3 linked regions of the Homo sapiens genome follow. The protein of the gene in region 3 interacts with the protein of the main gene of each other region in a pairwise test. Each region holds a gene or a part of one and is shown on either strand. Other genes may lie near its edges. The genes, in order: NUDT18, TSC22D4 and APIP.

Region 1 (3,745 bases), on a different chromosome or scaffold from region 3:
ATCCCTGGGCTCCGAAAAGCCACGGTCACCAGCACATTCAAACAGATGCCATCACTGTGATCTCGGCCCAGGTGCTGCAGTCCAAGCAACCCCTTGATCTCCACCACCAAGTGGTGCAGGGTCAGACACTCCTGCAGCAGCCGCAGGACGGCCATCTTCATGCCACCCCTCTGCTCCATAGGGTCGAGGCCACAGGCAGTGACAGGCAAGTGAGGCATCCCCACTGTGCCCACTAACACCCACACTGTCTGGGCGCTGGTAAAGGTAGCCACGAGCCGCTGGCAGACCAGATCACAGGGTAGCTCTTGGGGCAGAATGAGAGGGTGCCTGGCTTGCTGGCGATACTGGGCGGCTAGTTCAACCAGGTGCAGGATGTCATGGGCTCGCAGCGGAGTGGGCAGGGAGGTCCGTGGGTACCAGGCAGCCTGCAGGGACTCCGCATCGGCCTCCTTGGAAGTCTTGAGAATTCCACCTGGGGGAGATGTGGGGGATGGGGCAGGGAGGGTCTGTGTGGAGAGAAGTGCAGCTCTGGCAGAGTCAACAGACATCCCTGACCCAGGAGAGAGGCCCCCAGCCCAAAGGCTGGAATCTGCCCATGCCAGGCTGTGCCAGCCATAACAGGACTGGCTGTAGAGGGGCTCACCTCACCGAGGAGCTGGGGGAAAGGTGTCAACTGGCCCTGTTCACACTGCCTCCAGGTGGGCCATACCTGTGGGGCGAGCGAGGAACACGAAGCGGACCCAGGAGGGGCCCCGCTCCTCCACGGACAGCAGTGTCTCGGGCTCACAGTGCAGCCCCGCCTCCTCCTTCACCTCCCGCTGCAGCGCCTCCACGATGGTCTCCCCTGGCTCCATTCTCCCCGCAGGCAGGTACCACGACCCCCGGCACTCCCTCTTGGCCTCCTGGATCAGTAGCACCTCATCCTGAGAGGAGAGAGGATCCTCACTTCCTGCCACAGCCTTCCCTCGCCCCGGGACCAGGGGGCATCTCAAACACAGTCGCCCAAGACTCCCCTCTGGGTGGACACTCTCAACCCAGCTAGCGCTCCAGGAGACCTGCCCTCGTGTCGCTGGGGGCTGCAGCCCTCTCCTCTCTGCAATTCGTCTCTCTCTGGATTTAGGAAGACTTCCATTTCAGGAAGGGCTGAGATTCCTGGAAGCCGCTTCAGGGGCTGGAGATGAGGCCCCAGAGTGAGGGTCACCATGTGTCTGTCTGTCTTGGATTGATTTGCGTCTGTACCTGCCACTGTGTATCTCTCGCCTCCAACGGCGTGGTTTACAAACTGTGATGGGTCCTCACACTGGGGTCTGGCTTGAAACACGACCCCCACCTCCGCTCTGTACAACCCCGCCCTATGGCCCTGGCCCCGTCTAGTTGTCATTACATCGCCCACTACAGGCATCAGCACCAAAGGCCTGAAGGTAAGCCGGGATTGAGCCACTGCTATCTGAGGGGCCCTGGGCACTCCGCTAGACTCTGGGGAAGGGAAGGAATGAGGCCTAGTCGGATGAGACAAACAGGCCCCGGGCCTCAGTTTCCTCTTCTGCATATCGGGACGAACGCAGGACACAGATGCGAGTGGGAGTGGGAGTGCTTTGCAAAACTGGGAAGCGCCACGCACGCGGCAGCGCTGGCTGTGGCCGTTGGGTCTTCTGTCCCCACCTGGGCTGGCTGCGCGCTCCCGAGGCCCGGCGGGCCCGGGGGCGGCCGCTCACCTGCTCGCTGAGGAACACGGCCAGCACCACGTAGCACACGTTCTTCCGCAGCCGCACGGGCGCCGGCGGCTCCCCGGCCGGCGCCGAGTCGCAGCTGTGCACGCTGGACCCCTGGCCAGCCAGCACGGAAGCCAGCGCCCCCGCCAGGCCCTCCGAGGCCATCGGGTCCCCCGGGGGGCGGCGGGCCGGATCCTCGCAGACCGACTGAGCCGAGCCGCGGGCTAGAGTGCGCTGCGGAGCCCGCTCCCAGTCCCTGCGGCAGCGGGCCGGGAGCTCACGAGAACGCGGAAGCGCACGCGAACGCGGAAGCGCACGCGAGCTCTGGCCGCTGATAGGCTGCGCGGCGCCGCGGCCTGCCCGGATTGGCCGGCCCGCGGCATTCACCGAGGGGGCGGGGCCGCCCGGGGCCGCCCTGGAACTGGGGGGGCACGGGTCCGGAGCCCAGCGGACCCCGCCCGGCTTCTGCCGCCTGTCAGTCCCGTGCGCTCGGGACGTCTCCCAGCCGCCACCCGCTCGCCAACTCCCCGAGCGCGCACTGGTCTGCAGGAGCTCCGACGGTGACGTCATCTTTCCTGCAGGGCGCGTTGCGCCGCCGGGGTAGGCGACGGTGACGCGACAATCCGGTGACGTCACGGAGGCCCGGGGCCGCCCCCTGGAACCACTGTCCCGCTGTTGCCGTAAACACACAATGGCATTGCCGGAGTTGATCATATCCCAAATACCTTTCTTCTCATTCCACCAAAGAGTTATAAATGTCACATGGCCCGTGGGGTGGGGGACATAAACCCCTGCCTTGAAGGAGATTCTGCAATAGTTGGAGAGATGGACGGAGTCCTAGATGAGGAGTCAGCTGAGGGTTCGAGGCTAAGTGCTAAATGCTTGGTTTGGGCAGGAAGAGTGACAGGCGCTGGAAGGAGGGAGGGGGCAGGGCTGGGGATGGCGGGAGGGGTCCGGGGCTGAGAGAAGGCTGCCGTCAGCCGGCCCACCCTCATCAGTGTCCCTCTGCCTACCGCATTTCCCACGCAGCTCAAGGCCCTCTCTGCTGCAGATGGTGCGCCCTGGGAGGGCGGGGGTGGGGCCCTGCTCCTCCATCCTTGTCGTCACCCTCCCACCCAGCGTGCAGGACCTGGCGCGTGGAGAGCAGGGTGGGGGTGGTTGTGGCGAGCGCCTGCTCCTCTCCCAGCTCGGCCTTTCCTCCTTCACCCCACCTCAGCACTGGAAGGCAAAGCCAGCTGGAAGGGATCTGCGAAGCAGGCCGTCTGGCTCCTCACCTGGCAGAGGCCACCCCTTTCCTCTGCCTCTGATAGTTTTGTGCGCCTCCCTGCTAGGGAGACTGTGGCTTGGTGGTGTGGACAAAGCTCAGGACCTGCAGCCAGATGGCCAGCCACTGCTGACTGGCTTGCTCTGTGCTCCTGGGTGAGCTGTGGGCCTCAATTTTCTTATTTGTAGAGCAGGATCATAGCAATTCTTCTTTTACAGGGGTGTTGGGAAGCCACAACAATTGGAGAGGAGCTGTGTGGATTGTCCAGCACTGGGCACCGTCCCCAGGCAGCCCACCAACCCTCAGGGGTGGTCCCTCTCCACCATAGCTCTTGCTACCACACGCAAGGCCTGCCCTCATGAAATGTGACTTTTGTTATCCCCTAGAGTCAGGGTTTCACTGTGTTGCTCAGATTGGAGGTGCAGTGGCGTGATCACAGCTCCTACTGCAGACTTGATCTCTTGGATTCGAGTCATCCTCCTGCCTCAGACTCCTGAGTAGCTGGGACTGCAGGTGTGCACCACCACGCCTGGCTAAATTTTTAATTTTTAATTCTTTGTAGAAACGAGGGTCTTGCTGTATTGCCCAGGCTGGTCTTGAACTCCTGGCCTCAGTGATCCTCCCACCTTGGCCTTCCAAAGTGCTGTGGTTGCAGGCATGAGCCACCATGCCTGGCGAAATGTGCCTGTAGAGCTGCCTTAGAACTGGACTCAGGAACTTCAGCAACGCAGGATGCATCTCTTTAGGCTCCTCTCACCTGCTGATACTG
Region 2 (3,745 bases), on a different chromosome or scaffold from region 3:
CGTAGTAGTGTGTGTCTGTGGTCCCAGCTACTTGGGAGGCTGAGGCAGGAGCATGGCTTGAGCCCAGGAGTTCCAGGCTGTGGTGAGCTATGATCGCACCACTGCACTCCATCCTGGGCAACAGAGAGAGAGAGAGACCCTGTCTCTAAAAAAAAAGGCGGGGGCAGGTTGGGGGAAAGGGGAATAGTATAACATCTAGGATCTGATTTCAAATAGTCCAGCAAACTACAGCTGGCCCCCACACAATGTCATTTCATTGAATGTCATTTCATTATAACATTGATGATTTTCTAAAAATTGATTTTGGGCTGGGACCACCATCTGTGTGGAGTTTGCATGGTCTCCCCATGTCTGCATGGCATGTTTGAAAATTTTCATAATAATCCACTTTTTTTTTTTTTTTGAGACATGGTCTCACTCTGTTGCCCAGGCTGGAGTGCAGTGGCACAATCTTGGCTCACTGCATCCTCAACCTCCTGGGCTCAAGAGATCCTCCTGCCTCACAGCCTCCTGAGTAGCTGGGACTACAGGTATACATCACCACACTCAGTTTTTTTTTTTTTTTAAGATGGAGTCTCACTCTGTCACCAGGCTGGAGTGCAGTGGCGTGATCTCGACTCACTGCAACCTCCGCCTCCCAGGTTGAAGTGATTCTCCTGCCTCAGCCTCCCGAGTAGCTGGGACTACAGGTGCCCGCCACCACACCTGGCTAATTTTTGTATTTTAAGTAGAGACTTGGTTTCACCATGTTGGCCAGGATGGTCTTAATCTCTTGACCTCGTGATCCGCCCGCCTCGGCCTCCCAAAGTGCTAATTTTTTAAATTTTTTGTAGAGATGGGGATCTCGTTATATTGCCCAGGCTGGTCACGAACTCCTGGGCTCAAGCGATCCTCCCACCTTTGAGTAGCTGGAATTATAGGTGCACATCACCATGCCCAGCTATTTTTTTTTATTTTTTGTAGAGATGGGGTCTTGCTATTATATTGTCCAAACTGGTCTCAAGCGATCCTCCTTCCTCGACCTCCCAAAGTGCGGAGATTACAGGCATGAGCCACCACCGGGATCCGGCAATAATCCACTTTTAAAAATAAGGAATGGGGGGAATAATGCAGTTGCTGTGAAAACCAAAGGAGAATGACAGTAACAGCCACAGCTGCCCCACAGCAGGGACTGGGAACTTCTGGGTGGGCATGCAGCACACCTCCCGGCCTGTGCCTTCCGTCTCTTCTGTGTGTCTCTAGGCCAATGGCAGCAATTGACTACAAGTAAGGGAATCCCTCGCCTCCCTGCAAGCTCCTCCCCTTTCTCCCCGAGCCCCGCCCCCTGCAGCCCCTCCCTGCAAGAGTGGGGCTAGGGCCCGGCAGGTGTGGGGTTAAGGGAGTCTGTTTGGGGCCCCCAGGAGCAGCAGCCTAAGCAGTGGCTGCAGCAACTGCAACAGCAGCGGCTGTGGCAGGCCTGGCCCCGGGCCAGCTGGCGGGAAGCCCCAGGAGGGAGGGAGGGAGGAGGAAGGGGAGGAAGAGGGGAAGGAGGAGGAGGAGGAGGAGAGGAGCAGTCAGCAGGCCCGAGGAGGCAGGACTTCCTGGTGTGGGGGTTGTCAACAGCCCAGAAAGAGAAAGACGGAGAGGCAGAGACCCAGGGGAGCCGAGGAGCGGAGACACGGACCCAGCAGGGTCACGCGGGAGGAGACTCGGGACACCCACTCGCTGGCTGCCACCGGGAGCAGAGGGGGGCTCGGCCGCCCCCTCCCACATCAGTCTCCAGACCCTTGGGGCTTCAGAGGCCGCTCCTAGGCTCCTCGGAGGAGGCGCGGGTTTCTTCTTTTCCGGAGAGCAAACTTTCCTCGGAGATGCCTGGCAGGATGAGCCGCGGCCCCCGGAGAGGACGGGACAGCCTCTGATCGCCGCCTGCGTGCCCCGCCACTGCCCATGGCCAGGAGGCCCCAGGGAACGGACAGCCCGACCTCTTAGGCGCCGGGACCCTCAGGCTCAGATCAGTGGCCGAGGCCCCAGAGGTAGGGTTCAGGGCTGGGTGGGGCGCTGGGGGGTAGCCGGGCAGGGCCTGCCCCAGAGATGTGGGAGCTGGGGTGAGGGTGGGGGCTCGAGGCCCAGGAGAGGTCTCTCTGAGTGGCCGGGCCAGGCTGGGGAGCTGCTTCAGCCTGGTTCTCCCAGGCCCTGGAGTCCGAGCTCTTGGGACAATACGGGCCCCCTGAGTCAGAATCCCAGGCGAGAAATGCCCAACTCTGGGACTCATCTGCCTCTTTCTACTCTGAGTGCCTTCTTGGATCCAGTCCCCTCTGCCCTGGTCTCTGTCATCTCTTGCCTGTCTCTGGGTCTCTGACGGTTTCCCCTTCCCCCACTCTGCTCCCCGGAGAGGAAGCCCCGGAGGTGGCCTGCCCACTGGTTTCACACACACACACACACACACACACACACACACACACACACACACACACACTCTCTCTCTCTCTCTCTCTCTCTCTCTCCCCCTCTTTTTCCAGTTTGCAAACTCAGCTCTGGAGTTCAGCAGCAACAGCAGCAGGAAAAACCTGCCCCTGCTCCCCCCTCCCGCCACCTCCCCTCTCCTCTTCTCCCCTCACCCAGCAGGCACCCCCGGTTCCCGCCAGGCCCTCCTGCCATGTCGGACCCAGACGTCCCCAGGGGCTCGGATGTCCCCGCCATGTGGCCCCCTTGTTCCAGGGGTGCCTGAGCCCCTTCAAGGAGCCCCAACCCACCCCCAACCTTGGCCCAGCCCTGAGCCCCAGGGACCATGAGCGGGGGCAAGAAGAAGAGTAGTTTCCAAATCACCAGCGTCACCACGGACTATGAGGGCCCTGGGAGCCCAGGGGCTTCGGATCCCCCTACCCCACAGCCCCCAACCGGGCCCCCGCCCCGCCTGCCCAATGGGGAGCCCAGCCCCGATCCGGGGGGCAAGGGCACCCCCCGGAATGGCTCCCCACCACCTGGGGCCCCTTCCTCCCGTTTCCGGGTGGTGAAGCTGCCCCACGGCCTGGGAGAGCCTTATCGCCGCGGTCGCTGGACGTGTGTGGATGTTTATGAGCGAGACCTGGAGCCCCACAGCTTCGGCGGACTCCTGGAGGGAATTCGAGGGGCCTCAGGGGGCGCCGGGGGCAGATCTTTGGATTCCAGGTTGGAGCTGGCCAGCCTCGGCCTGGGCGCCCCCACCCCACCGTCAGGCCTGTCTCAGGGCCCCACCTCCTGGCTCCGTCCACCCCCCACCTCTCCTGGACCTCAGGCCCGCTCCTTCACTGGGGGACTGGGCCAGCTGGTGGTGCCCAGCAAAGCCAAGGCAGAGAAACCCCCACTGTCGGCCTCCTCACCCCAGCAGCGCCCCCCAGAGCCTGAGACCGGTGAGAGTGCGGGCACATCCCGGGCTGCCACGCCCCTGCCCTCTCTGAGGGTGGAAGCGGAGGCTGGGGGCTCAGGGGCCAGGACCCCTCCACTGTCCCGGAGGAAAGCTGTAGACATGCGGCTGCGGATGGAGTTGGGTGCTCCAGAAGAGATGGGGCAGGTAAGACCTGGGTTCTAGGGCTGGCCCATCAGCCCTGGCCTAACCTCTATCTTGAGCCTCCTTCCTCCTCCTCCCCCCCCTCTCCTCCTCCTTCTCCATCACTTTATAAGATCAGATAGCCCTCTTCTCTGTGCCTGCCAGGTCACTCTGAAGCCCCTTCCTCCTACTTCATTTTCTGTCTCAGCCTCCTTCCTGTTTTTCTGCACCCTCTCTCTT
Region 3 (3,745 bases):
ATACAGACAGATAAATATCAAGTGTTATTTTTATAAGTCCAATGATTACTTCTTTAGAAAAAAGAGCCCACACCATTTTCTCCTGCTTTTTTGTGGTTTAAATTAATGAAAACAAAAATAAATAAATAAATAAATAAATGAAGAAGAAATACAATGAATTCCATTTTGGGCAGTATAATATACAATCCTTATCTTAAAAATAAGTACAAATGCTGAATAAATTATTTTTTAAAATATTTCAAAATAAGTTGTTGAGCTGGCAAGAAAGTAAAGTTTCACAGGGGCCATAAAAAATGAGAATGAGACTCTCACACCAGTTGGAATGGCGATCATTAAAAAGTCAGGAAACAATAGATGCTGGAGAGGATGTGGAGAAATAGGAATGCTTTTACACTGTTGGTGGGAGTGTAAATTAGTTCAACCATTGTGGAAGACAGTGTGGCGATTCCTCAAGGATCTAGAACCAGAAATACCATTTGACCTAGCAATCCCATTACTGGGATTCTACTATAAAGACACATACGTATGTTTACTGCAGCACTATTTACAATAGCAAAGACTTGGAACCAACCCAAATACCCATCAATGATAGAATGGATAAAGAAAATGTGACACATATACACAATGGAATACTATGCAGCCATAAAAAAGGATGAGCTCACGTCCTTTGCAGGGACATGGATGAAGCTGGAAACCATCATTCTCAGCAAACTAACACAGGAGCAGAAAACCAAACACTGCATGTTCTCACTCATAAATGGGATTTGAACAATGAGAACACATGGACACAGGGAGGGGAAAATCACACACCAGGGCCTGTCAGCAGATGGGGGGCTAGAGAAGGGATAGCATTAGGAGAAATACCTAACATAGATGATGAGTTGAGGGGTGCAGCAAACCACCATGGCACGTGTATACCTAAGTAACAAACCTGTAAGTTCTGCACACGTATCCCAGAACTTAAAAGCATAATAAAGCAACAACAACAACAACAAAGGAAAATGAGACTACCTGGGAGAGAAGTGAGCGCCAAAGCCAGAATGTTCCTGAAGGTATTGCAAAACTCTGGTGACCTTGAACTTCAATTTTGATAGCCATGTAAGCCACTAGAAGCATGAGACAAAACCCAGGGCCTGATCAATTCCAGGAAACCTAATGAAAAATCCCCACATAAACTGGAGACCCCACTGAGGTCTACCTTCAAGGTAACAGTGAACAAAATGAGATTCACTGTGGAGAAAATCACAACAAGGAAGCATGCCTTTACAGATCCGGTCACTGGGTAAAGGGGGAAAAACATCTTTGAGTTCAAAAAGCGATCATTATTTAACAGGTTGAATTCTCAGCTACTTAGCTGAATACTTGAAATTGTGGTGTTTTTCCCCAGATTTAGTGCTAATGTTCTACTTACTCATTTTAAGTATTACAAATGATGACTGATGGAGTAAACTTCAAAATATAAAATTAAAAACTTGAGAATCTAGAAATTTCTAAAAGTTCTGATTCAACTTAGACTTGGAGTTAGCTGACTTAAAAGTCTAATCCACATTACTGGATTTATTGCCTACATGACTTTGGGTGTCAGTTTACTTATCCACACAATGAAAATGCTGTGAGGATTAAAATGAGATACAATGGACATAATGCAGTCAGCATGAAATCTGACACAATGTCAGTTTCCTTTTCATTTTAAAGAGCTGAAAATTCTTGAATTAAAATAGCAAAACTATTATAGGAGTTATTAAGAAATTATTTTAGACAGAGAGGGTAAGGTTGGTAAGGTTTTGTTTTCTTTTAATAATGCAGCTTAGTAAGGTTTTTTTTTTTCTTTTAATAATGCAGCTCCAAAAACATTTCTTTTCTAGCAGAAAAGCAGCTTAAAGGGCCAGGATAGCAAGCTTTGATGTGCAAATGCCAGCCATTAGAAACCGGGTCCATCCAATATGGTGATTCCCACCCTCTTCTTGTCACCATGTGTGTCAAGCATCATGGCCACCCCAGATATCTTCACGTGTGCAGAACATCATGGTGGCCTGTATTTGAATATTAAAAGGCTAGGGTGGGAAGGCTAGTTTTTTTCGTGGGCTACCTGAGTGACATACCTGGTCAAACCAATCCCCTGGGCCCTATGAAAATCAGACACCACCTCCTCCAGCCTCCTAATAGAACCGACTGTTTTCCCGCTCCACTTGGGGTTTTCTCTCTCTGCTTGGAGCCACCCTCCATCTCTGTACAGGGGAGCTTCTTTCTTCTTTCTTATTAAACTCTCCATTCCTTAAAACCACTCCACGTGTGTCCATGTTATTTATCTAAATTGGTGCGAGACAAAGGGCCCTGGTGTTCCTTCAGTTATCAGAGCCATATCATTTTGGTGTGTTGGCCAAGAATCCGAGGTACAACATTCATCGGATGGTGAGTATAGGAGCAAGCTTAAAATCTGTTCTATCATTCTGAGGGGCTCTTGGCCTCTATTTTAAAATCAAATCAAATCAATCAACAGGCATCCTTCAGCTGGTTAAAAATATGCTTATCACGACTGCCATTCTAAGGCCTCAGATGTTAGGCTTGCTGGTGGAGAACACGGAGAACCCCCCTCAATACCCACGGGTCATTGGGAGTGTCGGCCGTGTTTCGAATCAGTTTCCTTTCACGGGGAAACCTTACCATCGCGTGAGGCTGGGAAAGTTCTGGCCAGGACACACCCTGGCGTTATTCAAAGGCCTCTGGGTCGGACCCAGCCTCCAACAGCCCATTTCGGGTTTTGGCAGAGAATCCCCAGCTATCCTGTCACAAAACTCTCCTTCTTTTTCTATCCACAGTCTCTCTCTCTCTCTGATGTGCGGGAATTTAGTAACCAGGAGTTTAGCTCAGGAATGCTGTTGCAATCTTCTAGGAACAGAGGGTTCCTTTCCTCCCCCTCCTCCCCGCTCCCACCCAGAGTGAGCGTCTCTCTCTCTGCCCTTGGTCTGGAGAGTGCATGGCATTTCCAGGTCTCTCTACTACTACTCTGGCGAGCACATAGTATTTCTTTCTTTGGTTTTTTTTTTTTTTTTTTTTTTTTTTTTTTGAGGCAGAGTCTCGCTCTTTCGCCCAGGCTGGAGTGCAGTGACGTGATCTCGGCTCACTGCAAGCTCCGCCTCCCGGGTTCACGCCATTCTCCTGCCTCAGCCTCCCGAGTAGCTGGGACTACAGGCGCCCGCCACCGCGCCCAGCTAATTGTTTGTATTTTTAGTAGAGATGGGGGTTTCACCGTGTTAGCCAGGATGGTCTCAATCTCCTGACCTAGTGATCCACCTGCCTCGGCCTCCCAAAGTGCTGGGATTACAAGCCAGGATGGTCTCAATCTCCTGACCTAGTGATCCACCTGCCTCGGCCTCCCAAAGTGCTGGGATTACAGGCGTGAGCCACTGAGCCCGGCCTCGAGCAAATAGTATTTCTAAACCAACAGTGCCACCTAGTGGAAACAGAAATCTTCATGAGGCACATTTTTTTTTCTTTTATGGTAACACTGCAGCTTCCTTTTGCACCACTAGAAATCGGGCTCTAAGCCTCTTCTGTGAACAGGAAAATTCTGCTTTCAACAGATAGGAGTTAAATGTCTTCTGTGGCCAAATTTTAGTCTCAATATTGTCCCATCAGCAGGAAAATGGCCGTTTGGTTCCTACGTTCCTTTAAGGCACCTATTCTGTCTCTGATTAAGGTAGTACTGAGCTAGTAAGGGGATTTTAAGTCCAGAAGTTAACCG

Evidence for each region.
Region 1: the proteins of APIP (region 3) and NUDT18 interact in binary tests that used the Homo sapiens proteins (3 or more experiments, as listed by UniProt).
Region 2: the proteins of APIP (region 3) and TSC22D4 interact in binary tests that used the Homo sapiens proteins (3 or more experiments, as listed by UniProt).

What each region holds. Positions count from the first base shown.
Region 1 is NC_000008.11:22,107,424-22,111,168, forward strand, and holds the start of NUDT18 (8-oxo-dGDP phosphatase NUDT18), read right to left. Parts: upstream 1,878-3,745; coding exon 1,716-1,877; intron 924-1,715; coding exon 710-923; intron 473-709; coding exon 1-472. UniProt on the Homo sapiens protein: Mediates the hydrolysis of oxidized nucleoside diphosphate derivatives. Hydrolyzes 8-oxo-7,8-dihydroguanine (8-oxo-Gua)-containing deoxyribo- and ribonucleoside diphosphates to the monophosphates. Hydrolyzes 8-oxo-dGDP and 8-oxo-GDP with the same efficiencies.
Region 2 is NC_000007.14:100,477,061-100,480,805, reverse strand, and holds the start of TSC22D4 (TSC22 domain family protein 4), read left to right. Parts: upstream 1-1,591; 5' UTR 1,592-2,012; intron 2,013-2,498; 5' UTR 2,499-2,767; coding exon 2,768-3,529; intron 3,530-3,745. Other genes in the region: TSC22D4-C7ORF61 (uncharacterized protein LOC122198330), read left to right, coding at 2,768-3,529.
Region 3 is NC_000011.10:34,895,750-34,899,494, forward strand, and holds part of APIP (methylthioribulose-1-phosphate dehydratase), read right to left. Parts: intron 1,107-3,745; coding exon of another isoform or gene 1,012-1,106; intron 1-1,011. UniProt on the Homo sapiens protein: Catalyzes the dehydration of methylthioribulose-1-phosphate (MTRu-1-P) into 2,3-diketo-5-methylthiopentyl-1-phosphate (DK-MTP-1-P).